Regions from separate parts of the Homo sapiens genome. Here regions 1, 2, 3, 4, 5 and 6 are each linked to region 7. Evidence: fine-mapped expression QTL. A gene starts in region 7. Each other region holds a variant in brackets. All regions are shown on one strand. Distances are from middle to middle.

Evidence for each region. PIP is the estimated chance that this variant, and not a neighbour inherited with it, causes the effect.
Region 1: its variant is fine-mapped to the expression of RNF213 in tibial artery (GTEx, PIP above 0.99). The same link has a PIP of 0.9 or more in atrial appendage, breast, coronary artery, esophagus muscle, thyroid and tibial nerve.
Region 2: its variant is fine-mapped to the expression of RNF213 in monocytes (Fairfax 2014, PIP 0.95).
Region 3: its variant is fine-mapped to the expression of RNF213 in testis (GTEx, PIP above 0.99).
Region 4: its variant is fine-mapped to the expression of RNF213 in whole blood (TOPMed, PIP above 0.99).
Region 5: its variant is fine-mapped to the expression of RNF213 in lung (TOPMed, PIP 0.92).
Region 6: its variant is fine-mapped to the expression of RNF213 in monocytes after interferon gamma (Fairfax 2014, PIP 0.95).

What each region holds. Positions count from the first base shown.
Region 1 is chr17:80,293,405-80,297,601 of GRCh38, reverse strand. It overlaps RNF213 (ring finger protein 213), which reads right to left. Exons shown (of 68, transcript NM_001256071.3): 9 at 2,599-2,882; 10 at 1,789-2,045. Among named protein-coding and RNA genes, the nearest start is that of RNF213, 35 kb to the right of the region's middle. The variant A/G (reference allele first, on the strand shown) is at 1,601.
Region 2 is chr17:80,364,316-80,368,512 of GRCh38, reverse strand. RNF213 (ring finger protein 213) reads right to left here. Exons shown (of 68, transcript NM_001256071.3): 42 at 3,960-4,080; 43 at 665-765; 44 at 370-552. The region is part of intron 1 of RNF213-AS1 (RNF213 antisense RNA 1); the gene reads left to right. Among named protein-coding and RNA genes, the nearest start is that of ENDOV, 49 kb to the left of the region's middle. The variant A/G (reference allele first, on the strand shown) is at 2,194.
Region 3 is chr17:80,413,481-80,417,658 of GRCh38, reverse strand. ENDOV (endonuclease V) reads right to left here and starts at 2,492. Exons shown (of 10, transcript NM_173627.5): 1 at 2,409-2,492; 2 at 1,838-2,009. The coding sequence starts at 2,464. RNF213-AS1 (RNF213 antisense RNA 1) reads left to right here and starts at 2,491. Exons shown (of 2, transcript NR_029376.1): 1 at 2,491-2,730. RefSeq lists an enhancer at 1,970-2,059. The variant C/T (reference allele first, on the strand shown) is at 1,981.
Region 4 is chr17:80,349,535-80,353,731 of GRCh38, reverse strand. RNF213 (ring finger protein 213) reads right to left here. Exons shown (of 68, transcript NM_001256071.3): 30 at 3,826-3,962; 31 at 3,336-3,431; 32 at 1,929-2,047; 33 at 673-792; 34 at 66-220. RNF213-AS1 (RNF213 antisense RNA 1) reads left to right here. Exons shown (of 2, transcript NR_029376.1): 2 at 1-1,902. Among named protein-coding and RNA genes, the nearest start is that of ENDOV, 64 kb to the left of the region's middle. The variant T/C (reference allele first, on the strand shown) is at 2,049.
Region 5 is chr17:80,284,595-80,288,791 of GRCh38, reverse strand. RNF213 (ring finger protein 213) reads right to left here. Exons shown (of 68, transcript NM_001256071.3): 4 at 429-977; 5 at 37-159. Among named protein-coding and RNA genes, the nearest start is that of RNF213, 26 kb to the right of the region's middle. RefSeq lists an enhancer at 3,498-4,058. The variant C/T (reference allele first, on the strand shown) is at 2,580.
Region 6 is chr17:80,371,862-80,376,058 of GRCh38, reverse strand. It overlaps RNF213 (ring finger protein 213), which reads right to left. Exons shown (of 68, transcript NM_001256071.3): 47 at 4,074-4,185; 48 at 3,325-3,538; 49 at 2,894-3,084; 50 at 1,470-1,601; 51 at 189-299. All of the region lies in intron 1 of RNF213-AS1 (RNF213 antisense RNA 1), which reads left to right. Among named protein-coding and RNA genes, the nearest start is that of ENDOV, 41 kb to the left of the region's middle. RefSeq lists an enhancer at 3,092-4,197. The variant G/TG (reference allele first, on the strand shown) is at 2,055.
Region 7 is chr17:80,259,167-80,263,363 of GRCh38, reverse strand. RNF213 (ring finger protein 213) reads right to left here and starts at 2,512. Exons shown (of 68, transcript NM_001256071.3): 1 at 2,462-2,512. RefSeq lists silencers at 1-60, 1,635-1,774, 2,155-2,504, 2,784-3,133.

The DNA of each region.
Region 1 (4,197 bases), 34 kb before region 7:
GTTGGCCGGCTCTATTTTTTATTTTAATTTTTGTTTCCCAGACTGATCCTGAACTCCTGGCTCAAGCAATCCCTCCTGCCTCAGCCTCCCAAAGCACTGGGATTACAGGTGTGAGCCATAATGCCCGGCCAAAACAACTTTTTTTTTTTTTTGAGATGAAGTCTCACTGTGTCGCCCAGGCTGGAGTGCAGTGGCACAATCTCGGCTCACTGCAACCTCCGCCTCCTGGGTTCACGTGATTCTCCTGCCTCAGCCTCCTGAGTAGCTGGGATTACAGGCATGCACCACCACGCCCGGCTAAATTTTGTATTTTTAGTAGAGACAGTGTTTCACCATGTTGGTCAGGCTGGTCTCGAACTCCTGACCTTGTGATCCGCCTGCCTCGACCTCCCAAAGTGCTGGGATTACAGGCGTGAGCCACCGTGCCCGGCCCCAAAACAACTTTTTAAACGTAAGGGTTGAGCCTATAAACAATACATGGTGAATCTCCTACAGTCAAAAGATATTAATGATTCCTCATACTTTAAGCCCCGGCACTAACTCTGTACATTGCCTTTGCCTCCACTCCTCCTCTTTGTCAAAATGTGCGGCGTTTATTTGGTTGTTTTTTATTTGTAAAACCAGGCCAGGCACAGTGGCTCATGTCTATAATCCCAGCACTTTGGGAGGTCGAGGCAGGCGGATCACAAGGTCAGGAGCTCAAGACCACCGTGGCAACATGGTGAAACCCCGTCTCTACAATAAATACAAAAATTAGCTGGAAGTGGTGGTGTGTATCTGCAGTCCCAGCTACTCAGGAGGCTGAGGTGGGAGAACCACCTGAGTCTGTGAGGCTGAAGCTGCAGTGAGCTGATTGCTCCACTGCACTCCAGACTGGGGGAACAGAGTAAGACACTGTCTCAAAACAACAAATAAATAAATGTGTAAAACTGAGAGGCAGATGTCGTGATAAGACATGCTGGTCAGGAAAGGCTACCTAATGTCATTCTCACGTTCAAATCAACACACGCAGAGAGAGTGCAGAGCTCAGTGGGGTCTGAGCAGGTACCAAGTCAAAGGCCATCGCCTTCTCACCACTGAACATTTCAGGCCCAGGACAGTCACACTGTGTTTCCTGAACTAGACACGGCACAGGCAGGGGCATGGGGAGAACATTCACGCTGCTTCTGCAGATGTCCTTGAGGGGATGAGTTCAGGCTGGCGTCACGCCACAACCTCCTAAACACGCGCACACAGAGGCTGCTCATGATACCACACGAAGCTTCAAAAAGCAGGGTATTCAGACCCAGCACGGTGGCTCACGCCTACAATCCTAGCACTTTGGGAGGCCGAGGTGGGTGGATCACTTGAGGTCAGGAGTTCGAAACCAGCCTGGCCAAAATGGTGAAAACCCTTCTCTACTAAAAATACAAAAATTAGCCATGTGTGGTAGTGTGCACCTGTAGTCCCTGCTACTAAGGAGGCTGAAGCAGGAGAATTGCCTAAACCTGGGAGGTGGAGGCTGCAGTGAGCCAAGATTGCGCCACTGTACTCCAGCCTGGGCCACAGAGTGAGACGCCGTCTGGGGGGAAAACAAAAGGCAGGGAATTCAACAGAGGAC[A/G]GAATATAATAAAAATAAGACAGATGCTAGGAAAAACTACTGACATGACCACAGTGAGTGGTAAAATCACGGGTGGTTTTATTTCTTGCCTGTGTGCTTTCAGTCACTCTAGTCAAGCACTTATTTTTGCAATCAGAGAAAATCATTATAATAGCTATAAAAAACATTTTGACAAAAAATAATAATACCTCTGAGGTATCCCAAGGATGTGGCTTAGGTCACGGTGAAACTCATCTGGTGAGCTGGCATCTGAGGTTAGGAGGTGACACAACCAGTCCAGGCTGCCTTCTAATAAAAGCTCAATTTTTTCCACTACAAAAAGGACAATCAGGCCTGTTTTCAGTTTACTCCTCACTGGGCAGTCCACAGGCAAAAAGTCCGTGCTTTTTCCGTCCGGCAATGGTACCACGTGTTTTTTCAGATGTTGCCACAGGTATCTCTTCACCTGATGGTGGGAGAAGAGGAAGATGCATGAACCATGGACTTGAATTCACCGGCAGTGTCCAGAGCTGCCCCAGCACCACAGCTAGGGCAGCAGACCCCATCCGTGCCCCACCACCACACCTGTGAGAGCCACAGGAGGAGCTGCAGTGCAGCCAAGACCCTGGCATGAGGGCTCAGGCAGGGCCCCTGAGGCTCATCAGGGCTCAGCTTCAGCTCAGAAACAGCTCCAGGCCGGCCTGAAACCCACCCAGGCTGCACCGCAGTGTGGGTAAAGGTGCAGTGACAGAGGGTGCCCCGTTCCTTCCACTCTCCCTCCAAGGCCAGGGGAGGACTCAGGACTGGTGCTGGGGTGGGGCTGAGATTACAACCAGTAAAAGGAGGAAAATGGGGGAGGGCAGAGAAATCCCAAGAGACAGTGGTAGGAGAAAAGGCTGGAAAGTTCTACACATTCCCATTTGCAACCTGGCCCACAGAGTCAAGGGGTCATCCGGCCACTAGCAGGTCAGGTGTGGCTCCTGCCCAGCAGGTAGAGCAGCTGGTGGCAAGCCTGATACCTCTTTCTCCCTGTACTGCAAATCGGTCCACAGCTGTGCCTGTCCTTCATAAATCATAGGCTGTTGCAGGACAAAGCAAAACTGCTCGAACTGGGTGAAGAAGCTGTTCAGGTTGATGGTGTCCCAGGTCTGCAGGATGCTGAAGGTGCTGTCCAGCATGAGCGCAGCGGCAATCTGCTTCCCCTTCACCAGGTCCTTCCTCGGCCCGTCTGTGATGTGGTTCATGACTTTCTGGAGTCTCCCATGAGGCTTCATATAAACTATGTCATAGTACTGATGCCAGTCTAAGAGGGACAGAAGGAACAAGAGCCTACCTAAGACCATCAAAACCCTGGAGACCTAGACACTAGCCTAGAAGGCTGATCACGACTGGTACAGATATGGAGTAAATGGGGCAGAGGAAGGGAGGAAGGGAAAAGCAAAAACCCACACACTGACGACAGCCAGACTCCTCCAACTGACTTCTCATCTGAGGCCAGCCCCGTGCAAACAGACATCCTAGACGTCCCACAGTAATGAGTGGAAAGCCCAGGGTCATGGGATGCAGCGGGCCTGAGACTTGCAACGGATCTCTAACTATGTAGCTCAGCAAACTTGATCAACAACTTCCTTAAACATCATCACAAGGAGGTGGAATGTGTCATACAGAAACCGCATCCCCCCACTAGCAAGTGAGCACTGTCCTGGTCAATCACTGAGTTGGTTTCCTCTGTACTAGGAACGGGACACAGCCCCTGGAGGAAGGTGCAGGCTGCCCAGCTGGCACAGATGGCCCTTGGCATGGTGGCTGACACAGGGCAAGGGCTGAATTCGTGACTGTTCTTAGGCTCCATTGCAAACGATATGAGTGCAGACCTCATTGCAGAAAACCCAGTGAGGTTGACTGTAAAATAATTAGAAAACCCAAGATGTCAATGACAGGGTCAGAGGCCACGTGAAGACCTACAAACAGAAGTAAAAATCAGGCAGAAATGGGAAGCGCCCGGACAGGCCTCCTCAGCCCCCTGCCATGCTTTCGACCCACAGTTGTCTAGACTGGCAGGCCCGCCCACCCCAGCTCTGCACCCTGGGCCCAGCAGGGCCTGCAACTGTTTAGTTCTCAACTCGGTCATCACCTCCTTGTGGAAGCTTCTGCCGACCTCCAGGTCAAATCCCCTATCACATGTTTTTTTTTTTTTAGACTGAGTCTCCCTCTGTCGCCCAGGCTGGAGTGCAGTGGCACGATCTTGGCTCACTGCAAGCTCCGCCTCCCGGGTTCACGCCATTCTCCTGCCTCAGCCTCCCGAGTAGCTGGGACTACAGGCGCCCGCTGCCAAGACGCCCGGCCAATTTTTTTGTATTTTTAGTAGAGACGGGGTTTCACCGTGTTAGCCAGGATGGTCTTGATCTCCTGACCTCGTGATCCGCCCGCCTCGGCCTCCCAAAATGCTGGGATTACAGGCGTGAGCCACCACGCCCAGCCACCACGTGCCCTTTTAACCGAGCCATCAATGCCATGGCATTTATCAGAGCAGGAATTCCATATTTATATATATAGAATTCCATATTTAAATGTATTTATATATGGAATTACCGGACTAATGCCTATTCTTTCAAAGC
Region 2 (4,197 bases), 110 kb before region 7:
TGCAGTGAGCTGAGATCGTGCCACTGTACTCCAGCCTGGGCAACAGAGTGAAACACTGTCTCAAAAAAAAAAAAAAAAACACTGGCGTCTACATTCCTTGGGCCTCTGGTGAGGACCTTTGTTAAGACTTTCTGGCTTAGTTCCTCTGAATTTGTTGTCTGAAATCTGTATGTGTATGTCTTGGGGAGAGAATAATCTTGAGATACCAGATATTTATGAAAGTACGTAAGTGGCGTCTCTTATGATAGTTCTCTGAGGTCAGGTTTTCTACCAAATGAAGGTTAATAGAGTTTATATTTCTGAATATTGTGTTTGCCAAAAAAGGAAAATGAAAAAAAGGATGCTTTCTTGAGAGAAAGGGTGTTGTACCTGTGCGCTTGGGAAACAGCTGGAGAGAATTCGTCTGGCAAGGCAGTTAAACAGTAGGGGCATATCATCTGCTCTGAGGCAAACCAGGCCCTGAGGCAGCGCAGGCAGTGCACGTGGTCGCAGGGCAGACAGACGGGGTCCTTTGCATCTCCCAGGCAGATGGAGCACGGCTGAATCCCAAACCTAGAATCCAAGAAGGGCAATCAGTTCTGAAGCAGAGAAACTGGCCAGAAGAAGTGAAAACCACGAGAGGTTCAGAATTCTCGCCTTCACAGATCCAAACCTAAGGTCTCACCTGCTGAGGGTCTTGCTGGCTGTCTCCTTGCATTCACAGAGAGTGCGCATCACGGCCTCAAAAGGCCCGTGCGTCTTCACGTCAGAGTTCTCTCGAAGACACTGAAGAAAGGCAGGGACAGGAGTCATTAGCAGGGGGGAGGGCTGAGGGCGGCCAGGCCGGGCGACAGAGGGAGCACCACATTCAGGGCCAAGGCTGCGCCGTGTGTGTGGGGTGTGGGGTGCGAGGCCTTTGTGATCCTGTGTTTAACGCTTGAACTCTGAATGCTCGTTTTGTGATTATGCTGCTTGTCAGGGGACTACATTCTCAAGTTACGATTTTCCCTCTTCTTTTTCTTTTAAGGTCTCCTCCGCTCTCACTAAGATATTTCAAACTTTAAGTAATAATAATGACCATCTGTATACCCCCCACCAAGCTTTAAGAAATCTCAGCATTTATGGAATATTTGCTTTAGATCATTTTTTAAAATTTTTAAATTTTTTAAAATTTTCTTTCAGCCTCCCAAGCTGCTGCGATAGATCATTTTTTAGAGAAACAAAACATTATGCATATAGTTACAACTTCACATCCCTCCGTCCCTCCCCAGAGATAACTATATTTCTAAATGTCTGCTTTTAGGATAGCTGTAAGCATATCTGAACATGGAGTTATTATTTTGAATGTTTTAAAACTTGATATCAATGATACCACGTTGTATAAAGGCTTCTGCAACTCATTCTCTTCATGATACCTTAGGTCCAGATCACTCCTGTACCCACTGATAAAGACACCAGTTACCTGTCTGCTGGTTAATGGGCATTTAGGTTTTTTGCAATTCCTGACAGTCCTGTATTCAACATTCTTGCATATGTCTGAGAGCAAATGAGAAGTTTCTCTAGGATATAGTTAGAAGTGGAAACACTGGTTTTTAGGCAATACACATCATCACTGTACAAGATAGTTTAATGGCTGTACTAATGGAATTTGATGGGCAGGCATGATGTTGGTATAGACATCTTAATATTATGTCTACCTTGGGCATTGTGAGCTCAAGGAGAGTTCCTTCCTGTTCCAAGTTTGACAAGGGTATTTCTTTCCAAATAATTTTATCAAATGCTTTCTCTCTACATTTTGAAATGATCATATAGAGTTTATCTTTTAATTTATATAACTGATGACATTTACAGATTTTTTTTTTTTTATTTTGAGCCATCCTTGAATTGCTGGGATTAATCTTACTTGGAAGTGATGTGTGTATTTTTAATATCCTAATAACTTTGTTAATCAACAACCCAATTCAAAAATGGGCAAAGGACTTGAATGGACATTTCTCCAGAGAAGACAGCAAATGCCCAACAAGCACATGAAGGATGCTCATCATAACTAGTCATTAGAGAAATGCAAATAAAAACCACAATGAATTATCACGGTGGCCATTATGAAAAAAATCAGATAGTAACAGGTGTTGCCCATGATGTGGAGAAATTCAGACCCTGGTGCCTGGCTGGTGGGGATGTAAGAAAGATGCTGCAGCCCCCGTGGAAAACAAT[A/G]CAGTGCCTCTGCATAAAGTTAAACAGAGTTATCAAATGATCCAGGAATTCCCCTTCAAGGTACATATCCAAAACAACTAAAAGCCAGCCATGCCCGCAGTCCCACCCGTGCCATCCTGCAGCAGTTCCGTCGACAACTTCCTGCCCGGCCGAGGGAGCCAGCCTCACGGCGGAAGGCAGGGCTTTCCCCCAAGCCTCTTGTTTCAAATGGTCCCAAGGGCTGCTCTTCAGCGGGGGCTGGGTAGGGGTACAAGTCAGGCTTCCAGCAGGAAAACTAACGAGGTAAGGTCTTTGGCTGTGGTTACCTGCACAGAGATCTGACTGGAAGGAAATAAACCAGAAACCCAGTAAGTTTCTGAGGCCATTTTATCGCCAAAAAAAACCCTCCCCACGTTCCTAACCTCCCAAATCCTGTGGGCATGTGAGCAGGCAGGGGCCAGCTCCTTTACCTTTGGGTTTATGGGCACCTGGCCCTTATGACCCACGCTGGACCTGGCTGAAAGCCCTGTGCATCTCCCAGAGCGCCGAGACATGATGAGACTTGGAGAGGCTGCATGCTGTGTGGGTGTGGGGAAAAGGGTGGAAGGGGGGCACCGGCTGTGTCCTACTATCCTCTCTCCGCCTTTTCCTTCAGCAGAAGAACTCAAGTTCCACCTGGAACATGACCATGCCACGAAAAACTCCTCAGTTTCTTGCAACCAGATAAGGCCGAGTGCCTAAGTTTAGGACCACGAGACACGAGCTGGTGTGGCGTGTGCGTGTCCGGGATTGGGCTCTTAAGGAAAACGGCCTGTCCTCTACCTCCCCTGCTTTCTGTCCCACAGGCTGTGACGCCAGGCCACGGGGTGGAAGCTGAACATTAGGGACAATGAAGGGACAAGACGGAGCGTGGGCACCTGACTCCGTGCCAGCCTCCGGGGAGCTGGTACCTTAGCCTTGGGCTGCTCATACCCATCCTGGGTGGGAAATCAGCTGATACTGTGTCTAAGCCGCTGATGTTTTGATAGGTCAGAGTCAACACATCCAGCATCCATGCTGGCCTCCTTTTAGTAAACCTTCCTGTGCTCCAAAGGTCGGACAGCCAGCGCTGCCTCTTCCAGACCCCCTGGCGGTGAGGGCTCTGGATGTGCTCACGTGAAGGTCACGGGTGCGGGTGAGGCAGAGGCTGAGGCTGTGTTTGGCTGAGTGGCCACTGTTGCTGGACACCACTGCGTGGCCACAGAGGGGCATCACTGTAGGGTCACAGGTTTCTTTCTGCAGACCACCCCACATTAGTAGCTTTATGAAGGGTGTTGAGTGACAGGCATGGTGGCTTCCTGTTCCTTGGTTCTGTTGACAGCACTGTTTTGAAGACCCCAAACCCCGGTGGCATTCTCTGACATCCTTGTCTCCATGACTATGAAAATGGTAACAGCTTCCACAGATGGCCAGGCTAGTGGTCTGTTCTGGGGTCACTCCAAAGGCCAGGTAATCCCTGCCGAAGGTTTCACAAGCATGTTCCCTGCGTCAGCCCCTTTCTGCACACAGTTCCTGGAATCACTTCTAAATGATATGCTCTGACTTAGCAATCAGCAGAGGGTAAATAATTAAACAATTAAACATGGAAAATGTAATGGCCTAGTGATGAAATCACCTTCCTTTGCATGTCTAGACAAAACGGTCAGAGCCAAAAGAGCGTCTCCCAGCCGCAGATCACTGTCAGTGCTGTTCTTCCTTTCGGAAAAGGGTGGATCCGTGCATGTGCTGAGGCCAGCCCAAGTACTCACCTTGTCTAGTAAGAAGACGTGCTCGGTCACCAGCCCCTGTAACTCGGGGACGCGGCTCTCGGTTCCTAGGAGCACGTGCTCCACGAAGAGTGCGGTGGAGAAAATCCGACTCCACTGGGCTCTGTCAAAAGAGGGCGCCACTCACTCACTCACTCGGCTCCCACCAAGGAACCCAAGGGTGAAACGAGGAGGGAGACGGGAGAAGAGATGCGGGACCCGGGGTCCAGGCCCAGCGGCT
Region 3 (4,178 bases), 150 kb before region 7:
AATTATAACCCATAGGTGATGGTATTACGAGGTGGGGCCTCTAGGGAGGTGAGTGGATCACCATGTGAGAACACGGTTAAGAAGCTGGCCCTGTGCAACCTGAAAGAGCGCCGTCACCACAACCTGATTGCGCTGGCACCCTGATCTTGAGCCTCCAGCCTCCAGAACTGTGAGAAATAAATTCCTGCTGTGGGTAGGCCACCCAGTCTAAGGTATTCTATTACAGCAGCCCAAACGGACTAAGACATGGTGCTGAGGGACAAGTCCTCGTCTTGTGGGATGAGAGGGAGCTTAGTGGAGGACGTCATGTCTAAACTGAGCCCAAAGAGATGAGTAGTAGTTAGCCAGATGGAAACCCTTCCAGAAGAAACATTACTGCAAAGGTCAGGCCGCCAAATACAGCGTAGCAAACACGTGAGGGACTCACAGTGGGCTGTAGGAGGTGGGAAGAACTGAGAATAGTGGTGAGGGCTGAGCCTCCAGCGTCATATTAAATTACGCAGGGGACAGGTCATGACGGGCCTTGAAGCCATGCCAACCAGAGTGAACTTTATTCACCATGAGGTCATGAGAAGGGCACTTCAATGTTCTAAGAGGACTTGTGGGCTGGGTGTGGTGGTTCCCACCTGTAATCTCAGCACTTGGGGAGGCCAAGGTAGGAGGATCCCTTGAGCCCAGGAGCTGGAGACCACCCTGGGCAACATAGTGAGATCCTGTCTCTACAAAAAATAAAAAAATAAGCCGGGTGTAGTGGCTCACACCTGTGGTCCTAGCTACTCAGGCTAAGGTGGGAGGATCACTTGAGTCCAGGAGGTTGAGATCAGATCTTGACAGTGAGCCAAGATTATGCCACTGCACTTCAGCCTGGGCACAGAGTGGGGGAAGGGGAAAGGAAGGAAAGAGAGACAGAGAGAGGAAGGAAGGGAGGAAGGAAGGAAGGAAGGAAGGGAGGGAGGGAGGGAGGGAGGGGACTTGTTGCTTTTGAGGAAAATACTTGCTTTTTAGGAAAATTGGTCTGCTGGCAGTATGGAAAAGAAACCACTGAGGAGGAACATTTGAGCCAGGGCACCCATGAAAATGCTGCTCAGGAACCCACAGGAGTGATGGTGGCACAGCCAGGGAAGGAGCAGAGGGGAAACAGACAAGGGGACAGATTCCAGCGACATTTAAGAGGCAGAATAAAAGCGAGCTAGTGTGCAACTGGACGCGAGAGGAACGGAGGGGCCCAGGAGGATGCAGATCTCCAGCTTGGGCAACTGGGAGCGTGGTGGACAGGTCACTGAGATGAAGAACCCAAGATAACAATCAGACTTGAAGATAAAGCTCATGAGCTGATTCTTAATAGTCACAGAATTCCCTTAATTTTTGCCTTTTTTTCCCTTCCAAGACTCCCCAGACTTTTTTTTTTTTTTTTTTTTTTTGAGATGGAGTTTCGCTCTTGTTGCCGAGGCTGGAGTGCAATGGCGTGATGTTGGCTCACCGCAACCTCCGCCTCCCGGGTTCAAGCGATTCTCCCGCCTCAGCCTTCCGAGTAGCTGGGATTACAGGTATATGCCACCACACCCGTCTAATTTTGTATTTTTAGTAGAGACCGGGTTTCTCCATGTTGGTCAGGCTGGTCTCGAACTCCCGACCTCAGGTGATTCCCCCGCCTCAGCCTCCCAAAGTGCTGGGATTGCAGGCGTGAGCCACCGCGCCCGGCCAACTCCCCAGACTATTAATGACATCCTACAAAACGAGAAGCCGGGTTCTACGCTTGCACTGCTCCCTGTCCCGGAGACCGCACGCCCGAGCCCACCGAGGGGCCCGCCTCGAGCTCGGCGTCCTCCCAGGTTACCTCGAGCTCAGGGAAGCTGAGCACCACCAGGGAAGCACAAGCGCGGACACTGTCCCCTTTCACGAAGGACACGTCAACGCCCCCGACCCTCTGCAGACCCGAGAAGGCGGGGTCTCGCTGCCACGCCTCGGTGTCCCGGTCTA[C/T]GACGTGGGCCTTCAGCCGAGCTTGCTCCCTAGGAGGACAGAAGCGTCAAACTTGGTCGGGGTCACACCTCAGACTCTGCCTCCTCCACCCGCGCGGCTGCAGCGGACAGAGCGCCTCTGCCGGGTCTTCTCCCGCTTCAAGGGAAAGCAAGGGACATACCGCCGAGGCCACAGTCCCTAGGAGCCCAGGCGGCGGAGACCCGCGCAAGCGCAGGCCAGACAAACTGGCCGGAAGCGAGAACCGCGCCCACCCCGCGGACTACAATTCCTGAGATCCCTCCGCTTCCGCGCCGGAAACTGGGCTTTGCTTTGGAGTCTCGGGCGGTGGCAGCTCCGATTCCACAGCCTGAAGACTATGAGCTCGGAGGGTCCGCGAAGGGCCGCCCGGCCTCGGCCCCCGCCTCCTGCGCGTCGCCTGACAGCATTACCGTTTCCACAGTGACAGCGTTTCCTCCGGCGGCCCTCCCGCCGCCTCCAGGGCCATGGCTTCGTCCCGGGCACCCCTTCCGCACGTCACTTCCGGAAGCGACTCGCTCTGACGCCGTCCGCCCTCGTTGCCATGGAGACGCTTGCGCTTTCCCGGGCCGCACTTCCCACCCGGGTCTTCAGAAGCCCGTGGCCGCTGGGTGAGCCCCTGCGTGAACGCACACGCACGCACACGGCTTCAGGTTGCCCCGCGGCGCCGCGCGCGATATCGGCTCGGATCCCGGGAGGCCGTCCGCCCCTTTTTCAGCGGATAGCTGAGGCCAGGTAAGTGACCGCGCGAGGACCCGGGAACTCCGTGACGCCCGTCCCGCCTCTGCTGTCCCCGCCGCAAGCGCTGCGCTCTGCACGGCGAGAGGGGCCTCTTGCCCTGTTGAGAGCCGGCGGGCACGGCACTTCTGCGCTTGGAAAAGGGTGGTCCAGCACTGCAGGTCCCACTCCTTGGCCCGGTCAGCGTCCGCCTTTGCTGAACCCCGAAAGGATTCACCAGGTCCAGGACAGCCCGGCAGTTGCCTCAGGAGCACTTACTGAGCGCCTGTCGTTGACGCCCCCACCTCGATGGCAGCTCAGGGGTGCCCTCAAGCTTTTGAGGGCAGGTGTCGTGTATTTAAATTCTTCACAGTTTAGCGGGCTGGACTCACGGGGGTGCTGCAGACTTGGACGGGGTTTCATCTGGGTCGGACCTTGCTGGGCAGAAAGCTTCTCCTACCAGACAAAGTACGGCGACCTTGGGGGGTCTTGGTTCTTACCTCGTGTTCCTCATTGAATGAGTGTTGGTTCAGTGCTCTCGCTGTGCCAGGTGTTGTGCGAAGTACTGTGAGGGAGAATATGTATTTATTTGTGGGGAGCCGACTTTAAACCGGTGGTTGGGAAAGGCCTGAGAGGCGATATTGAAGACACCTGAAGGGTGAGTGAAAGAGCACGGCGGGTGAGTGGAGCAGCTTTCTCGTGCAGGTCCCGGGGTGGGAAAGAGGTTGGTGTATTTGAAGCACTGAAAGGCAGCCACTGAAGCTGAAGTGTAGCAGTTTAACCCATGGTTTTATATTCTCCTGGGAGGATTCAGAAGGGTGTATGTGTGTATGTATATATAATAGCCTGAATATAAACGTCAAGGGTGTTAGGTTTTGAAGGGAAGGTGAAGGTTAAAGAATGACGCACAGTGAGATTGCCGGCGCGCGGGCGGCTCTACAGCAACACAGGTGTATTGCAAACACCTGTCGGGGGCCAGCTTAATGCCAGAGCCCACCAGCGATTACAGGCTGGGGTACTCATAGGCCTGGGCAGGAGGGATCTAGGCAGTATGGCTTGCTGTCCGGGAAGATGTTAACGTGTTCCCAGGATGAGGTGGTTCCGGCAGAATGTGGTGTTCCTGGCGCTTTGTCCCAGCAGAATATGTTAAGAGGCAGGCTGTTTCTCATGGCTCGAACCCCCGTGGAATGTTTCACTTTGACCAAGGTCTACAAAATGGAAAGGGGCTTACAAAATGACGCAGTTTGGACTAACAAAGGGGAAAATACAGAGGATGAAATTAGACTCTAGAGGTTGAGGCTCAGGAAAGGCTTCATACAGCTTTGGGAACTGACAAGGCTTTGAAAGCAGGGTCAGTTTTCAGCGAATGAGCGTCACCCACTGCACCCTGCGCACCCTGCTCCCCTGCTGCGGTGTCTTTCCCACCAGAGTGTAGCAGGACAAGCCGCAGACAAAACCCCTCAGAC
Region 4 (4,197 bases), 90 kb before region 7:
TTTAAAGATGCAGCTCAGAAGCATCACCAGCAGCACAAGGGGAGGTCCCAAGAACCAGAACTTACATCACTGCCTCCGAGTTCAGAGGTTTCCTTTCCCACCTTCTCAGAACTTTCTGTTTCCATGGCCTCCTCTGCCACCTCTGCCACCTCCCCTGATGTGCTGGCCTCCGTCTCCATCGCCTCCTCATGGCCGTCTTCCGCCCGGTGTTCCAAGCCCACTGCAGTCGAAGCAAACGTGATTGCGTTACCACTCAGAAGGTGGCACAGGGACTGGCAGCGGTGCCATCTGGGAGTCTGTGTGCTCAGCCTCCGAGTGCAGGCTTCCCCGGCCCCTGCTGTGGTGCTAGGTCCCCAGATGAGAGATCACGGTCATGAAGATCAGCCCCCAAGGCAGCCCCTTCCTTCCAGCCTGGGCTCTGGCGTGTTCTAGGTGCTCACTTCCATGGCTGGCCTGCTCACAGAGCTCTACCTCAGCCTGTGGTAAGCGCACCTGCTCGGCCCTGGTGCTCTATGATGAGCCACCAGTCAGTTCTGCAGATGTGTCCCCGAGCTCCTGCCGAGGGACGAAACACGGTGGCCCTGCTCCTAGTGCCATGTGCACGCCACGCTCCACACCTGCCATCTGCCCTTCCACCACCTGCTCCCCCAGGGGCTCCGCCTCGTGACTCACGCTCAGGCAAGTCTCCGGGCGCGAACAGCTGGCTGATGGTGACATGCTGCAGCCTGGTCACATCAGAAACCATGAGGGTGGATCTCCGGAGGTCATCGATGTGGACAGACTGCCACAGCCCTGTGAAGAGTGAAGCCACCCACAACTGTCTTTGTGTCTTTCCCGGCTGCTGCTCAGCCCTAAGCAGGGACATTGCACACCCTGGCTTGTCATTATCTTGCTGCGCAATGAATGACTGGCACCCTGAAGCCGAAACCCTGGAATGGGCCTGCGCAGAAACCACCCAACCCGATACTATACACGACCCGATTCTATGCCCATCGACAGCTTCACCATAAGCAGCAACGGTAAGACCTGCAATGGCCAGCGTGGGAAGGACGCATGGATAAGGCCTGTGGTTCTTTCACCCATGCATTGTTGTATTTGCTGTATCACAGTTAGTGAGGGGTGGGGGACACTGGCAAGGTCTGCCTTCCATTCTCCACGAAATTATTCAAGTAAACTTACTTTCCTGTTTCTGGAATACCAACTTTTCTATGTCATAAATAGCTGGTGACCATTCCTTGGAAAAAAAGAGATCTGAAGATAGTCCGACCCCCGCCACTCTCCCTCCCCGCCAAACAGGCGTATCGGTGCGTTCCTGACAGTGTCTGTCGGGAGTCGGGAGTCTCCACGCCGTGTGACCTACATGCTAAGAGGTGAGGAGCTTGCCTAGAGTCAGTCCAGGAGAGGTGCACGCAGCCTCCCATCCCAGGATTCATGTTTTCATGGTAATCAGTGGTAAGAAATCTAATTGCATCTGGAAAGAATCCTCTTGAGGTTAACAATAATATTCTAATTTCAGACTGTACAACACAGAACCAAATGAGAAACAGTTCCAACATGACTTAAATAAATACACTGACTGGGCTGGGTGCGGTGGCTCACACCTGTAATCCCAGCACTTTGGGAGGCTGGGGCGAGCGGATCATGAGGTCAACGGATTGAGACCATCTAGGCCAACGTGGTGAAACCCCGTCACTACTAAACATACAAAAATTAGCTGGGCATGGTGGCGCACGCCTGTAATGCCAGCTACTTGGGAGGCTGAGGCAGGAGAATCGCTTGAACCCAGGAGATTGAGGTTGTAGTGAGCTGAGATCGCGCCACTGCACTCCAGCCTGGTGACAGAGCAAGACTCCATCTCAAAAAATAAATAGATACAAATAAATAAATAAATACATAAATAAATACCCTGACTGATGTTCTGATCTCACCTCCGTGGAAGCCCACATAGGCTGTTCCTCTTCCCACCCGGGACAGTTTTGTGATGAAATAGACGAAGATACGGTCCTCATTTTCTCGTATTTTGTTGATTTCATTTATAACAGAATACC[T/C]ATTTAAAGAAAAAAAAAAGAATACCTATTTTAAAAACAAACACACACACAAAAACAAGCAAATAAACAAAGCAAAGCTGTGCAGCTGCAGAAGGGTGTTCTCCGAGCTGTTGGTTCGGTCTCACGGCCACCCGTTCCGATGAGTTTTACATAAACTTCAGAGCCCTGCGATCGTGATTTCTTCTCTCACAAGGGGATGAGAAATCTTCTCTTAGCGGCTCGTTTTCTTCCCCATTCCTGTGTCCTCTGCTTTGAAGTGGCATTCCTTCGTTGACCAGAAACCCTATCTTGTGCTCCTCAATGGGCCTGCCCCGGTGCAGCTAAGGGTGAGGACAGCTGAACTTTCCATTCCTTCTTTTCTCTTAAGCGATGGGGGTCTTGCTGTGTTGCCCAGCCTGGTCTCAAACTCCTGGCCTCAAACGATCCTCCTGCCTCTGCTTCCCAAGTAGCTAGGATTACAGGAAACAGCCCCTGTACCCAGTGGACCTTTCCATTTCAACAAAGAGTTCTGTGCGCAATGCCATTCCCTTCAGATGACCAATGGCCAAAGCCAGTTTCTTGTTGAGATTTAAGCCACGAACTGAAATATGGCATCCAATGCTTCAAAAAGGTCCAGAAATCACTTTTACTTTAAGTAATAAAGGCACAAAGTTAATTCTAAGAGCATCAGACTTCCCCTACAAACACTATAAAAATATCCAATAAATAGGAAAAAAAGCATTTACCTACTGTTGTTTCCCTCGAACTTGAAATAAATTCAAATTGTATAATTCAAAATTAATAATGACCAAAACATGTCTACAAACACAGGCTTCAAAGGCATCCTTTTATAGCTTGTTAATGTTCCATTATTTACACCTCTCGCATTTCACCTTTTTTGTGGGGAGGACAGGCTCTTGCTCTGGCCCCTAGGCTGGACTGCAGTGGTGGGATCGCAGTTCACTGCAGCCTTGACCTCCCAGGCTCAAGCGATCCTCCCACCTCAGCCTTCTGAGCAGCTGGGACTAGAGGTGCACTGTGGAAGGCTAATTATTTTATTTTTTTAGAAATGAGGTCTTGCTCTGTTGCCCAGGCCCATTCCACTATTTTTGTAATGTTATTGGCCTTTTCTTTTTGTCTCTCTTCAGTTTCCCTAATCCCACTTGGGGGAATGAGGCGGGGGAAGAATTGTTATTTTTATTTCTATACTGATTATGATACTATACTGTCTTCAAGGAAAAAATTCTCTAGGACTTCCTACGTTTTGGGTTTTTTACATAGTTTCTGAGAAAAATACTAAAAACATACTTAGCTGAGGCAATGAGCTGGGCGCTACGGATTCCATCTTCAAAATCTGTCTGAAAAATGAGGATTTTACATTTGGCTGTATTCGTTAAACAGTTTCTGAAAGAAAAGGGAAGTTATTCAAGTGAGTTCTCTGTCTTAAAAAAATGGAAAAGAAAATTCCCCAAAGTGATGGGAAACATAAAGGCTACAAAGAAACAGCTACTCAGGTAGGATTTTCTTCAGTAAGAACAGATAGTCCAGGGGAGGAAACCCAAGGAATGCCTCCTAACGAGGTCCGAGGATGGTGCTCTCGGAGGAGGATGTTAGGCCAGACACCGCGTTGCAGAAGATGATGGAGATGAGAGGGATGCTGGGAGAGATTTAACAAGGATCTATTTCACAGTCACGTGACTGTGGCGCTCATTAACCGGCGCGGGTACCATCGCCACGCAGAAGCCACACGGCTGCGGCTGGGGAGGGAGAGGGCAGCAGGGAAGGCAGGGAACCTCACCGGACTTCTTTGAGGAATGAGTACTCGGTGTCAAACTGCTGCAGCCACAGGAGTGTGGGTTTCGGAGCCCTGCCTGTGACCTCTGATTCTAAAATTTCACAGTCGTGACTTGTTAGCAGCCTGGAGAAAGTGGTGATCTACAGAGTTAAGAAATGCAAATTACTTGCCAGACTTCAAGGAAAGGTTGCAAGTCTGCTGCCAGGTTTAGACAGATCCTAGAAACCTGCGATGTTCAGCGCGGTGCAGTTGCCACACAACGGCACAGAATCCAAACCCAAAGGAGTTTCCCAAAACACGGCAGCGCTGGGGCCGAGAGGCCCTACAGGGCCAAAGGCATTGGAGAGACGACCCCACCCTGCCCCGAGGGTGCCT
Region 5 (4,197 bases), 25 kb before region 7:
GGCCTCCTGGAGCCGGCAGGCAGGAAGGAGACGCACCTGGCAGTGTGTTTTGAAAGGAGGAGTGGTTGCTGGTGGCTGTTTCATTCTCTGGGTCTTCTCTTTCATTTCCTTCCCGGCCCCTTTAACTGCATTGGCTGGCTCAGCTACAGCATCAACTGCCTGAAAGACCCCAAACACCAGAGCCAAGGTGACAAAATGGGCCAGGGTGACTCCGACTCAATGGTTTAAGGGGCAGCATCTGCCACAAGCCGAGGGACAGGGTGGGCTGGCATCCCCAGTGGAGGGGCAGCCCTCCGACTCCCACCCAGGGAGCAGGGCCCAGAGGACGCCCCTCCCCCCGGCAGGGAAGCAACGCCAGCACCTTGCAGCAGAGCCCAGGTGCCGAGGGCTCAGTGCCACTCCCAGGCCATCTCTCCCGGATGACTCACCATAGAGGCTGAGGCCCCTGCCTGTTGCTCGGTGGTCTGCAGTTCTGTCCCGGGCTCAGAGCTGCCTCCTTTTGACTCAGGCAACAGGAGCTCCTGGGCAGCATCTTCAGTCCTAGAATGGCCTTCACCAGCAGAGGTGGGGGGACCGGTCCCCTCCTGGGACAGGCCTCTGCCCCCAGAGGGGATGGAAGCGTCCTGGTCCTCCCCTTCCGTGTGGTCCTGGAATTGCGGGCTGCTCTGAGCCTCACTTCCTGTGGCCACTCCTGCCTCTCCCAAAGCCTGGGCCTGCAGGGGGCTGTCGCCAACCTCGGTGGGCGCGGAGAGGCCGTCACCCTCCAGTGGCGTGGTGGCTGTGCCTGGGGGCTGGCTCGGCTGGCCAGTGGGGCCACTCTGCTGGGCTTGGCTGTGGGGCAGGGCTGTGTCCTGAGGCCACGGGTTTGAAAGCAAAGTCAGGTGACAGGGGCTGGCAGGAGAAAGGGGCAAGGAAGCCAGCTCTGAGGAAGCGGACTTGTTCCCCTTCTTTTTCTTCTTCCTTTTCTTCTTTTTGCTCTAAACAGAAAGAGAGACACTCACTTTATTTCTTAGATTTACTCTACTCTAGCCCGTGTTTCCCTCCAACTTTCTCTTCCGTTCCTCAACTACATCAAGCTTGGCTCGACCAAAGTACCTAACATCTGTTAAATCTGCAATTTCCTGGAAAGAATGAAATTAAGAAACAAAAGTGGGGGGTGGGCAGGGTCGGGGCAAGTGGCCTTGAAGCGCTCGCCACACTCGGCACGGTCACGGCCGGGCTGAGACCCTCACACGGGCTCACTGCTTATTGGACATCCACTGAGATGGATTTGTATTTATTTATTTATTTGAGACAAGGTCTCCCTCTGTCGCCCAGGATGGAGTGCAGGGTGCAAACCCAGCTCACTGTAGCCTTGACCTCCTGGGCTCAAGTGATCCTCCCCCATCAACCTCTTGAGTAGCTGAGACTATAGGTGAGCATCACTACGCCCAGCTAATTTTTTGTTGGTTTGTTTTTTGTAGAAACGGGGTTTCACCATGTTGCCCAAGCTGGTTTTGAAATCTCAGGCTCAGGCAATCTGCCCATCTCGGCCTCCCAAGGTCCTGGGATTACAGGCGCGAACCACCATTCCCAGCTGGTTTTAAAAAATGCTCTGTAGAGGCAGAGTCTCCCATGTTGCTCAGGCTGGTCTCCAACACCTAGGCTCAGGCAATCCTCCCATCTTGGCCTCCCAAAGTGTGGGATTACACGCGTGAGCCACCGTGCCTGGCCTGGTTTTGAACATTAGAAAGCACACACAGGCTTTCCACGTTTTATGCACCTCTATAAAAATATTTCGTACATAAAATTTGAAATGAGAAGGATGAGACTAAAAAATGAGTAGCAGCTCCCACCGCACCCTCAGCAGGCACAGCCAGGCTCAAAGGCACATCCAGGTTCAGGTGTACGGTCCCCATTTTGGAACCAGGACTGCGGCTGGTGGGAGGAGGCTGCCAGGACCCTGGGACCCCACAGGCATCTCCCAGGGGGCAGTACTCAGGGGTGCGTGTGGATCAGGTCAGTACAGGAAAGTGACTTGTAGATCCCCTGAAACCTGGTGGTGTGTGATGAGGGCCCCAAACTGCCAGGCAGCAGGTGTGAACCTGTGCCCACTCCACGCCCCCCACCTCCTGCACCCACATACCTGGGAAGACCTGCACACACTGAGGTGCAGCCCAGGGGCTAATCCACCCTCTCCTCAGCAACTGGTAACAAGGGGATGAGGAAGCGCCACAGGATCCCATCACTGCCACTTCAGGAGCCCCTCGGCTGACGGTCGGCCCCTGTGTGGCCCAAGGAGGAGGCTGCGTTCCCACCCACCCAGGGCATGACGAGGCCGCAGCTGGACAGGGCTGCATCCCAGGGCTTCCAGGAGGCCAGGCCGACACTGCAACCCCTTCTCTATCACACATGGCCACACTTCCTGCCAGAACCAGGGCCAGAAATTCCGATTTTCTCCTCCTTTTTAAATTCAGAGGAAACCCATGCTCAGTGTACACAAAGCACAGGAGGCGCCCCCACCCCCCGACCCTCCGACCCATAACATCTCCCCAGGCCACAGCTTGGCTCCAGCCTCCCGCTCGGCCTGCGTCCAACAC[C/T]GGCCTGCGTCCGACACCAACCCCAGGCCACCAACCCACCACACCGCTGAGAGCACCTGGTCCCATTCCAGGGAGCAAGCACCACTGCTGAAATGGCACACTTGGTGCGTTTGGGTGTGGACAGAGGAGACTCACTCCCAGCGCAGGCTGACTCTAAAACAGGGCCTCACTGAGATCTGGCCACTGCACTCCAGCCTGGGCGACAGAGTGAGACTCCATCTCAAAAATAAAACAATAGGTCAGGTGCGGTGGCTCAGGCCTGTAATCCTAGCACTTTGGGAGGCCGAGGCAGGCGGATCACTGGAGGTCAGGAGTTCGCCACCAGCCTGGCCAACATGGTGAGATCCTCCCCATCTCTACTAAAAACACAAAAAATTAGCTGGGCGTGGTGGCAGGCACCTGCAATCCCAGCTACTTGGGAGGCTGAAGCAGGAGAATTGCTTGAACCCGGGAGGCAGAGGCTGCGGTCAGCCGATATTACGCAACTGCACTCCAGCCTGAGCAATAGAGCAAGACTCCATCTCACAAAAAAAAAAAAGCAACTGCAGAAGCAGCTGCAGAAGAAGAGTCTGGGGCTGGGGCCCAGCACTGTAGAGTGGCGTCATCAGCAGGTATCAGCCTCTGAATGACAGGCTGGTCAGCTGCCGGGGGACCTGCTGAGAGGGGGAAGCAAGAGGCCGTCAAGAAACAGGCAGGTGCTGCACAACCCTTCACTGCAGGCACCCATCGTCCTCAGTGTGCTGAGGAGACCTGGCAGGTGGGGTCCCAGCCCTGAAGACAGCCTCCCCTCGGAGAGGCGATGACGCCGTCCCTGCCCGGCCAGCTGCCTGGTACCTCCGGGGCTGCCATGCAGTGGCGTCTGGGCTGGGTTTAGAGGGCCTGCCTGAGTTCCCATCCAGCTCACCCCATGCTACAATGGCTGGGCAACCCCAGGTGGGTCACTGAGCCACCGTGGGCCTCAGTTTCCCCATCTTTAAAGTGGAGACAGCAGATGTGTCCACATCAGAGCATCACTGAGGGTGACCAAATGGGACAAAGCACACGGAGAGTTGTAGGACACTGCCTGGTACACGCAAGGCCCCCATCAGTGATGCTGTGGTCATGGTCACTGTCCACACACAGCAGGTGTTTGTGGCCACCTGGTGACAGCGCTGGATGGCCCATCCTGGGGAATGGTCCCTTGGCTCTCCCTGTTATCGGCTGCATGGTTTGAGTAACATCAGCCTTACTCTAGCCCCAAGGGCAGCTCTTGTGCGTGGGCTGGTGTCAACCACTGATGTCTATCATCCTGGCCATAGGGACCCACTGGGGGATTGGCCTGTGAGCCAATCAGAGCCAATGAGATTTGAGGAAGCGCTTCCTCTCTCCAGAGGAATCAATCACCAGAGGAGGCGCTGTCTTGTCCCCTGAAGGACAGAGTAGCAGGTGGATCACAGGGGAAGCCACTGTGTGGCACGAGGGAGTAACGGGAAACAGCTGATGAGAGGCTCAGTGGGGGAGCCGTCCGGAAGGCAGAGTAGACAGGGCCGGAGACGCCTGCACCAAGCCTCACCTACAGGCTCGGGGCTCATCAGGTGTGTCCATAATAAACTTCCTCAATGGGATTAGAAAGGTGGAG
Region 6 (4,197 bases), 110 kb before region 7:
TTTCATTATAATTCTACAAGCTTTGGGTTAAACAGCTTGGTTATGTGTTCCTCCACATAACAAGGTTGAGAACCTCTATCCTAGATAAAAAAATTATGGTATGATTTGTGTTGATAACTTTCATTCTATTCAATAAAATCCCTCCAAATACTGAGACTTTGAACACAGCCCTGCAGGCGGTTACTCACCTCTGGCGTGGGGTGGAGGCTTGCATTGTGGGATCTGTACAAAATAGCCACCTCTCTAAACAGTGTTAACAGGAAGTAGGCTGACTGCTGGCTTTGGGGGGTCTTGCAGGCCTGCAAAATCAAGGGTATCAAGTAAGAATTTAAAAGCTCAACACATCTTTTTTTTTTGAGATGGAGTCTTGCTCTGTCACCCAGGCTGGAGTGCAGTGGCATGATCTCGGCTCACTGCAACCTCTGCCTCTCGGGTTCAAGCGATTCTAACTCAGCCTCCCGAGTAGCTGGGACTACAGGCACACGCAACCATGTCCGGCTAATTCTTTTTTTTTTTCTTTTAGTAGACACGGGGTTTCACCATGTTTGCCAGGCTGGTCTCAAACTCCTGACCTTGTGATCTGCATGCCTCGGCCTCCCAAAGTGCTAGGATTATAGGATAGACGCCCCCGCACCGCTGCCTGCCAGATCTACCTAAGGGCCAGAGGCCCACGAAGTTTGCATGTGAAAAGAAACTTTTCACATGCCTCAGCCCTCAACCCACCAAAAGGGAAGGAGCCTTTTCCAGGCCTGGACACCTGGGGTCATGCCCCACATGGGCAGTCTTCTGGCGAGCAACTTTTGGGCTACAAAGTTCCTGAAATACTCTCAGATTAAACTCAACGCATATTTAGCAGCCAGCTTAATGACAGAAGCAACGGAATCACCATCTGTTCTTCTGACTCCTTCACTGGTCTTAGAAACTTCTGAGCAGAAAGAGGATTTTCCATTTCCTCTTTTCCTGGCACAGGGACTCAAAAAGGAAGCAAGACCAGACCAATTTAAAGGTTAGATTCTAAAAACATCTTTATATTTTTTAACTTCCCACACTACACCAACATATGTATTTTTATTAAACACACATGCATATCTGAATTATGAATACATCTAGGTATGAATTTTGCTATTAATAGTTGTGTCAGCATCTTTCTTAGACTGTTTTCCAGCAGGGTCTCAAAGGAAGTAATGGGCATAAATCAAAAGGCGCTGCTGATGGACTTGGCAGATCAGCAAGACACAGCAAATCTGTCAACCCAGCTCAACTGTCATAGCTGTCCTGTTCCAGCCACTGGTTCACGCACACTAGCCAGGTGCGCCCTGGAGGCTGTGGGCACGTGACTTCCAATACAGTGTCACGTGATGGGCTGCATCAGTGGTCCATCACCCTGCATCATTTGACATAAACCAGGGAACATGCAGGCTCCAAGGGATGCCACCTGGTATCAGAGAGAAGCCACGGGCCCATCCTACCTTCAGAGCAGTCTTAATGCCCAGTGGCTTGCACTCGAGGACAGCTTTGGCCACAGCATCACGGAGAGCCTTGTATTCATCGCCGTACACCAGGTACCTATCCATCTGGCCTGGGTGGTCCTGCCGCAGCCCCTGGAATACAGAGGTTAGTTGGGGGTGAACAATGGGAGGAATGTCTTGCAAAGAACCGTCTGAACGGGTACAGGAACCAGGTGGTTGATCATTCGAGGTTTAAAGGCAGCCAAGCTGGGATTCCCTGACCTGGCCTGAGGCAGGACAGTCTGGTGCCCTCTTCGCAGGGAGCTTCCTCCTCAGTAGACGAAGAGGTGCAAGTGCAGGGAATGCCTGCCGACGGCAGCGCTACCTGGGGAGGTGCTTGCTTCCTCCGTTTGCGGCGCACCGCACCACACCTGAGGCCGGGTGGCTCAAGTCATGTCAACTCTAAACCCCAGGTGGTAGTCAAACAGTGCCGGGGTTCTTAGTACCATTTTTGTATCCCCTGGACAATAAGAATTTGTTAATTTCTGGGTATCTGGAAAGGACCACTGAGAGGCCTTGAAGCCTCTTTTTTTTTTTTTTTTTTTT[G/TG]AGACGGAGTCTCGCTCTATCGCCCAGGCGCTGGAGTGCAGTGGTGCAATCTCGGCTCACTGCAACCTCTGCCTCCCGGGTTCAAGTGATTCTCCTGCCTCAGCCTCCCGACTAGCTGGGATTACAAGCACCCACCATCATGTCCAGCTAATTTTTTTTTTCTTTGAAGTAGAGACAAGGTTTCACCATGTTGGCCAGGCTGGTCTTGACAAACTCCTGACCACAAGTGATCCGCCTGCCTCGGCCTCCCAAAGTGCTGGAATTACAGGTGAGAGCCACTGTGCCCAGCCTGGCCTTGAAGCCTCTTCTGCAATTCTTCTATTCCTAGTTCTTGCTCTTGCCTGTCTCTGCCTGCCAGAGGTAAAAAGGTCGCACCTTGCAAGCTGAACTACGTTTAATTCGCTGAAAGCAAAGGCCACAAGAATGTTCTACTTTCCTTGAGTGAAATTCAATTAGAAGTGATGCCTAATTAAAGAAGCTCTGAGGTGAGTGCCCTCACCTTGGCCCTACAGCAGGCAGTGTAAACATGATCACAAGCTGGGGCAAATCAGCTGAAGCACAGAGACAAAGGACCAGACAGACAAGCGGCAGGTTTCCTTCCTGGCTCTGGGGATGCTAAGGGCAGGCGGAACGCGGAAGCAGTGGCACCATCCCTGGGTGTGAGGGTGAGGTGTGGGGGTGTGAGGGTGAGGTGTGGGGGTATGAGGGTATGTGGTGGGGAAGGTGTGAGGGGGTGGGGTGTGGGGGGGGTAGGGTGTGAGGGTAGGGGGGTGTGTGGGTTTGGGGTGTATGGGGCTGTGGGGGTGCATGTTTGTGTGCTGCCCGGCCCCGCTTCTCACCTGCTGCTTGACAACGTCCTTGGGAAACACCCACTGGTGCGGGCGGCCGGGCTTGGAGAGGCCCTGCACGAACTCCATCCCCCGCTGGCTGCTGAGCTTCCGCACCAGGTACACCCGGTGCCAGTCGTTCTCCACCCGGATACAGAACTGCTTGACTTGCTGCAGGTAGCACTGCTTCTCCTTGGCCATCTCTGAGAGGCCAACGAGAAAGCGGGTGAGTGGCTGGTGACTTAGGGCATTTATTGTAGGACACAAGGCCAACCAGAGGGCATCGGACCTACCCACAGGCATTCACAGAAACACATCCAGGGGAGAGGGGATGTAGAAAAGCCCAGTAGTAGTCTATTCGAAGAACTAGTTTCCCATACTTCCTGAATTTCTAAATAACGGAGTCTTTAAACCCAAAGGAAAGCAAGGCAGAGAAGACTTGCCTGGGCCTCCCTCAGGCTCCGAGAGGAAATCTGCAGCTCTGTCGAGGCAGAGGCGGATCCGGGCCACCTCTTGCAGGTATTCAACCGAGGCCTCGTTGGCAGGCTCTCGGCCCCGGCTTGCTGGAGAATATGCCTTAAGGAAACGACCTTCCTCTTCTAGGTGGTTCAGTTCATCATTTCTGGAGTAAGCACTGGTCTTCTCAAGTATTGAATCCTGAGGAACAAGGAACAAGAAAGAAAAGGATATTATTTTTTTAAACATGGATGCCCCAAGCTTCTACAGTCGCCAATGTGACTGTGGAGAAGGAAGGATAGAAGAATGTTACTGTAGGTTTCAGTGTAAATTTCTTGACTTATGGAAACCTAACATTCCTTTTTATTTTAAGGACAAGAAGGAGGGGAAAAGTGAACCTATGAGGAAAAAAAATTATCTAATTTATTTACATTATAAAAATTTTGGATATAAAAATATGAAGATAAAAAGTATCCATAATGTCCCCACTCAATGATAACCACTGTTAACTTTGGCAGTATATTCTCCTAGGCTGTTCTGTTTTGTATGTATATGCAAGTAAATGCCAAAATATACGTTGCTGAAGGCAGAAGCCGCGTCTTTGAAACCTTTCTTCTTTTCTGCACGGAACAGAGCATTCGTTAATTATACTGACTAAAATTATATTCTGTAAATTTTAAACCATGTGGTTCAGATAGTTTCCAAAAGAAATTCAGGGAAGAGAGAGTTCACTTACCTCCAGGCAGTTGATGAAGAGCATGTACAGTTCAGTTTTATCTTCAGTTATGAATGCTTTCTTTTTTAACAGGGTCAAATATTCCTGAATATAATCTTTTACATCATGAAAGCTGCAGAAAGAG
Region 7 (4,197 bases):
CCAGGCAGGCGTGGGGCAGCCACGTGCTGTTCGGCAGGGTCCCACGGCCTGCCCTGAGCAAGGCGCTCAGCCTGCTGATGCCTCACCCTCCTCATCCTCTTAAGGGGACTAAAGCACCTGCCCCACAGGTGATGGGGCCTGAGCAGGCAGCCCAGGGCTACTGGGCTGGCAGTCAGATTCCTAGTAATGGGGGGAGGCTGCCATCCACAAAGCGCGCCACTCTGCACTGACCACCTGCCCTCAGAACAGCCTCTGCGGTGGATGGCATCAAACCAGACCAAGGCCAGGACTCAGGCCTCCGGGGTCACTTCTTGCATCCAGGGTGAGAGTGGAGATGGCGTTTGGGCGCTTGGCCACCTAACAGTGGAGGACCTGACTCTCTCCCTCCCCAGTAAGAAGCCTCAGGGCACACTGGCCCACCCACCACCTTCTTCTGCTGGCTTGGAACCAAAGAACTCCACTGGGGCAGTGGCTGGAGCGGCAGCTGACTGGTGCCTTCAGCAGCCAGGAGGACACTCAGGCCCCCTCCCTGCCCTGGCCCTGCCCTCTCCTCCCACTGGGGTGGGCTCACTCAGGCTGGGCCTGAACGAGGGACGGAGGCACTGGGTGGGGTTCCCTGGCTTGACCTGTGTGGGAGACTAATCTATGCCACCCCAAAACAGATTCTGTGGTCAATTTTGAGATGGCTATTCAGAGCAACCACATACTCAGGAGTTCTGGGAAGCTATCCTTTTGTAAAAGGCTATAAAGGAAATCCACACCATGAAACAGCAGAATGGAGCAGAAGCTCTCTCTGAGGCCCCATTATCTGCCTAGAGGGATCTAGGAACGGTCCCAGGGACACACAAGAGGAGTGCCTGCGGCCTCGCCAGTTCCTCTGAGAGCAGCTCTGAGATCACCTGAGTGATTATCTGCACAACAAGACAACCCTGCACACCTCCCCTCTCCAGCCCCAAGCCCCTGTCCCAATGCCATAAAAACATCAATCATCTGTCTTCTGCAGTCTTCTCTTTGATGAGGTTCCCAATAGGTGTATGGGACAATTTGCATCCCTTTTCTCCAGGTCTGCTGCCCTTTTATTCCAGAGACTAAAATTATCTCTCCTTCAGAGTAGAAGGAGAGTTTAAAACTCCCCTACCCCTGCCACAGCCAAGCCCTGGCTCCCACCGTACCTCCTCCCCTCCACACTCTACCTGAAACAACCACCAGTGGACACTCCCTCCCTCAAACACCTTCAATGACTCCCCACCGCCCAGGCCTCTTTCTTTCCACCCGAAGTGTTTCCTTCTCCAATGCTACACTGGGGAACCACAGACCAGAAAACTCGAAAAATCCTCCAAAAAGCATTTTTTGTTTGTTTGACAGTTTCACCCAGGCTGGAGTACAGTGGGCAATCTCAGCTCACTGCAACCTCCGCCTCCCGGGCTCTAGCGATTCTCCCGCCTCAGTCTCCCAAGTAGGTGGAGTTACAGGCATGCGCCACCACACCCGGCTAATTTTTTGTGTTTTTAGTAGAAACGGGGTTTCATGTTGGCCAGGCTGGTCTCGAACTCCCGACCTCAGGTGACCCACCCGCCTTGGCCTCCCAAAGTTTTGGGATTACAGGCATTAGCCACTGCGCCCGGCCCCCTAAAGCATCTTATTGTTCCATCTGCTCTAGGGGCCGGAAGACACAAGAGAGAGCCCCAGGCACCCAACACTGTTGCATTCAATCCGCTTCCTGTCTTTTCTCTGACATTTTTTCCCAAGCACAGACACTGCCACCCAAATCAAAGCCCATCCCCCAACCACAACCAAAGTCAACAAGGTGGGGGCAGGGAAGGGCCACCACCATGTTTGCACAGCTCCTTCCCCTCCCGCCCTGGACTCCCCCAGGGCCCGGCCCGCCGGCTTGCAGGCAGCCATCCGGGAGGGGTGCCCACCCTGGCCTTGAGCCCCGCGCTCGGGCGACTTCGCCAAGTCGGAAGGACGCTGCGCGGTGCGGTTCAGACGGGGCGATGCCTCCCTCGTAAAAGTTAGGAGTCTGTTTTTGCAACTTCACTTTTCCGTTGTTGCCATTCGTACAGGCGCAGGATTCCCGGGCGGACCTGCAGGCCCGGGTCCGGCTGTCCCCTTCCACTACACCCCCCGTGCCCCGGCCACTTCCCGGGGGCAGCACTGCCGGGGCGCAAAGCCTCCTCCGCGCTCTGCGCTCCGGGGATGTCGCCGGGGTCCCAGGCGTGCCCGCTGCCCCCACCCCGACCCCTCCCGCAGCCGGGGAACAGGGTCAGTGGGCGCCGCGGGCGGGGCTGGACCGGGCACCCCGGCGGCGAAACCGAAACTTGGAGCCGGCAGGAAGAGGCGGCCGGGAGGGGCATCCGGACGCAGGCGCCGCTCCCCGGGACCCGGCCCGCCGGCCCGCGGGGCCCACTGTATCCTAGCCCGCTCCCCGCCCCGGGAGACTCTCCAGGCCCGCTCGCACCTGCGGCCCCCGAGCTCGCCGCCTGCCGCGCGCTGTCGCCCCTCGGGTCACGGGGCCCTGGGCCCCGCCCTGCCCGCCGCCGCCGCCGCCGGCCCCGCCCTGCCCGCCGCCGCCGCCGCCGGCCCCGCCCTGCCCGCCGCCGCCGCCGCCGGCCCCGCCCTGCCCGCCGCCGCCGCCGCCGGCCCCGCCCTGCCCGCCGCCGCCGCCGCCGGCCCCGCCCTGCCCGCCGCCGCCGCCGCCGGCCCCGCCCTGCCCGCCGCCGCCGCCGCCGGCCCCGCCCTGCCCGCCGCCGCCGCCGCCGGCCCCGCCCTGCCCGCCGCCGCCGCCGCCGGCCCCGCCCTGCCCGCCGCCGCCGCCGCCGGCCCCGCCCTGCCCGCCGCCGCCGCCGGCCCCGCGCAGGCGTGTGCGGAATTCCCCGCCGGTGGCGCCTCCCAGTGACTCCGGGCCCCCAGCCCCCGGGAGGCGCCTCGGGCCGCTGCGCGCCGGGTACAGACGCGGGAGGGGCCTCGGTTCCCGCCAGGCGTGGGGCGCATGCGGGTCTCCCGGAAGCCCAGACCCCGGGCAGGCCCGAGCAGCCGAGTGGGGCGGGACAGGCGCGCCCCCCGCCCCGGCGCCCAGCACCTCGGACAGTGTCTGCGGCCGCGCAGAGCCGGCGGCCAGCCTGGGAGCGGCCCAGAGGGCGCCCGGCGGGTGCAGTGGACGTCGTCAGCGCGCCGCGTGGGGGCCTTTGCAGATTAAGGGACCTCCGCGGCCCCGCGCGGAGCGCTCTGTCACTGATGATGGAGGGGCCACGGCGGTCCGCACCATCCCCCGTGCCTCAGTTTTCCCATCTGTGAGGCTCATGGTGTGACCAGGGACCTCCGTTTTAAAATCACCCACTTTCTTTTTCTTCCTTCTCCTCTCACCCCTTCATCCCGTCCCTCTCTGGACACTGCGCCCCTCTGCGCATTCCAGAGGGGACCCTCATCCTGAAACAATTCCCGGCGCGGAACCCCAGCTGAATGCTCCTGCTTGGGGCGGGGGGTCGCCAACAATTAGTCCAACATCCTCGACAGCCACCCCTCCTAACCGACAACTGCCCACGACAGCCATGGGAACAAGACACAGACCCTGCCCTTACCCCACTCCCCACGGTGCCCACGGCAAGTTTCCCTAGAAGAACTCGATGGCAGCCTGGGCAACATAGAGAGACCCCATCTCTACAAAAAAAATCATTTAAAAAAATTAGCTGGGCGTGGTGGTGCACCTGAAGAGGCTGAGGCAAGAGGATCGTTTGAGCCCAGGGAGCTCCAGGCTGCAGTGAGTCGTGATCATACCACTGCACTCCAGCCTGGATGACAAAGTGAGATCTTGCCTCAAAAACTAACAAACACACAAAACCTGAGGATAAATTTTTAATTTTAGGGTGGCACTTTATTTATTGTTTGTTTGTTTTTTGGAGACAGTCTCACTCTATACCCCAGGCTGGAGTGCAGTGGCGTGATCTTGGCTCACTGCAAACTCCACCTCCCAGTTCAAGTGATTCTCATGCCTCAGCCTCCCGAGTAGCTGGGATTACAAGCGCCCGCCACCAAGCCTGGCTAATTTTTGTATTTTTAGTAGAGACGGGGTTTCTCCATGTTGGCCAGGGTGGTCTCAAACTCCTGACCTCAGGTGATCCACCTGCCTTGGCCTCCCAAAGTGCTGGAATTACAGGCATGAGCCACTGCGCCCAGCCAAGGTGACACTTTAGAACG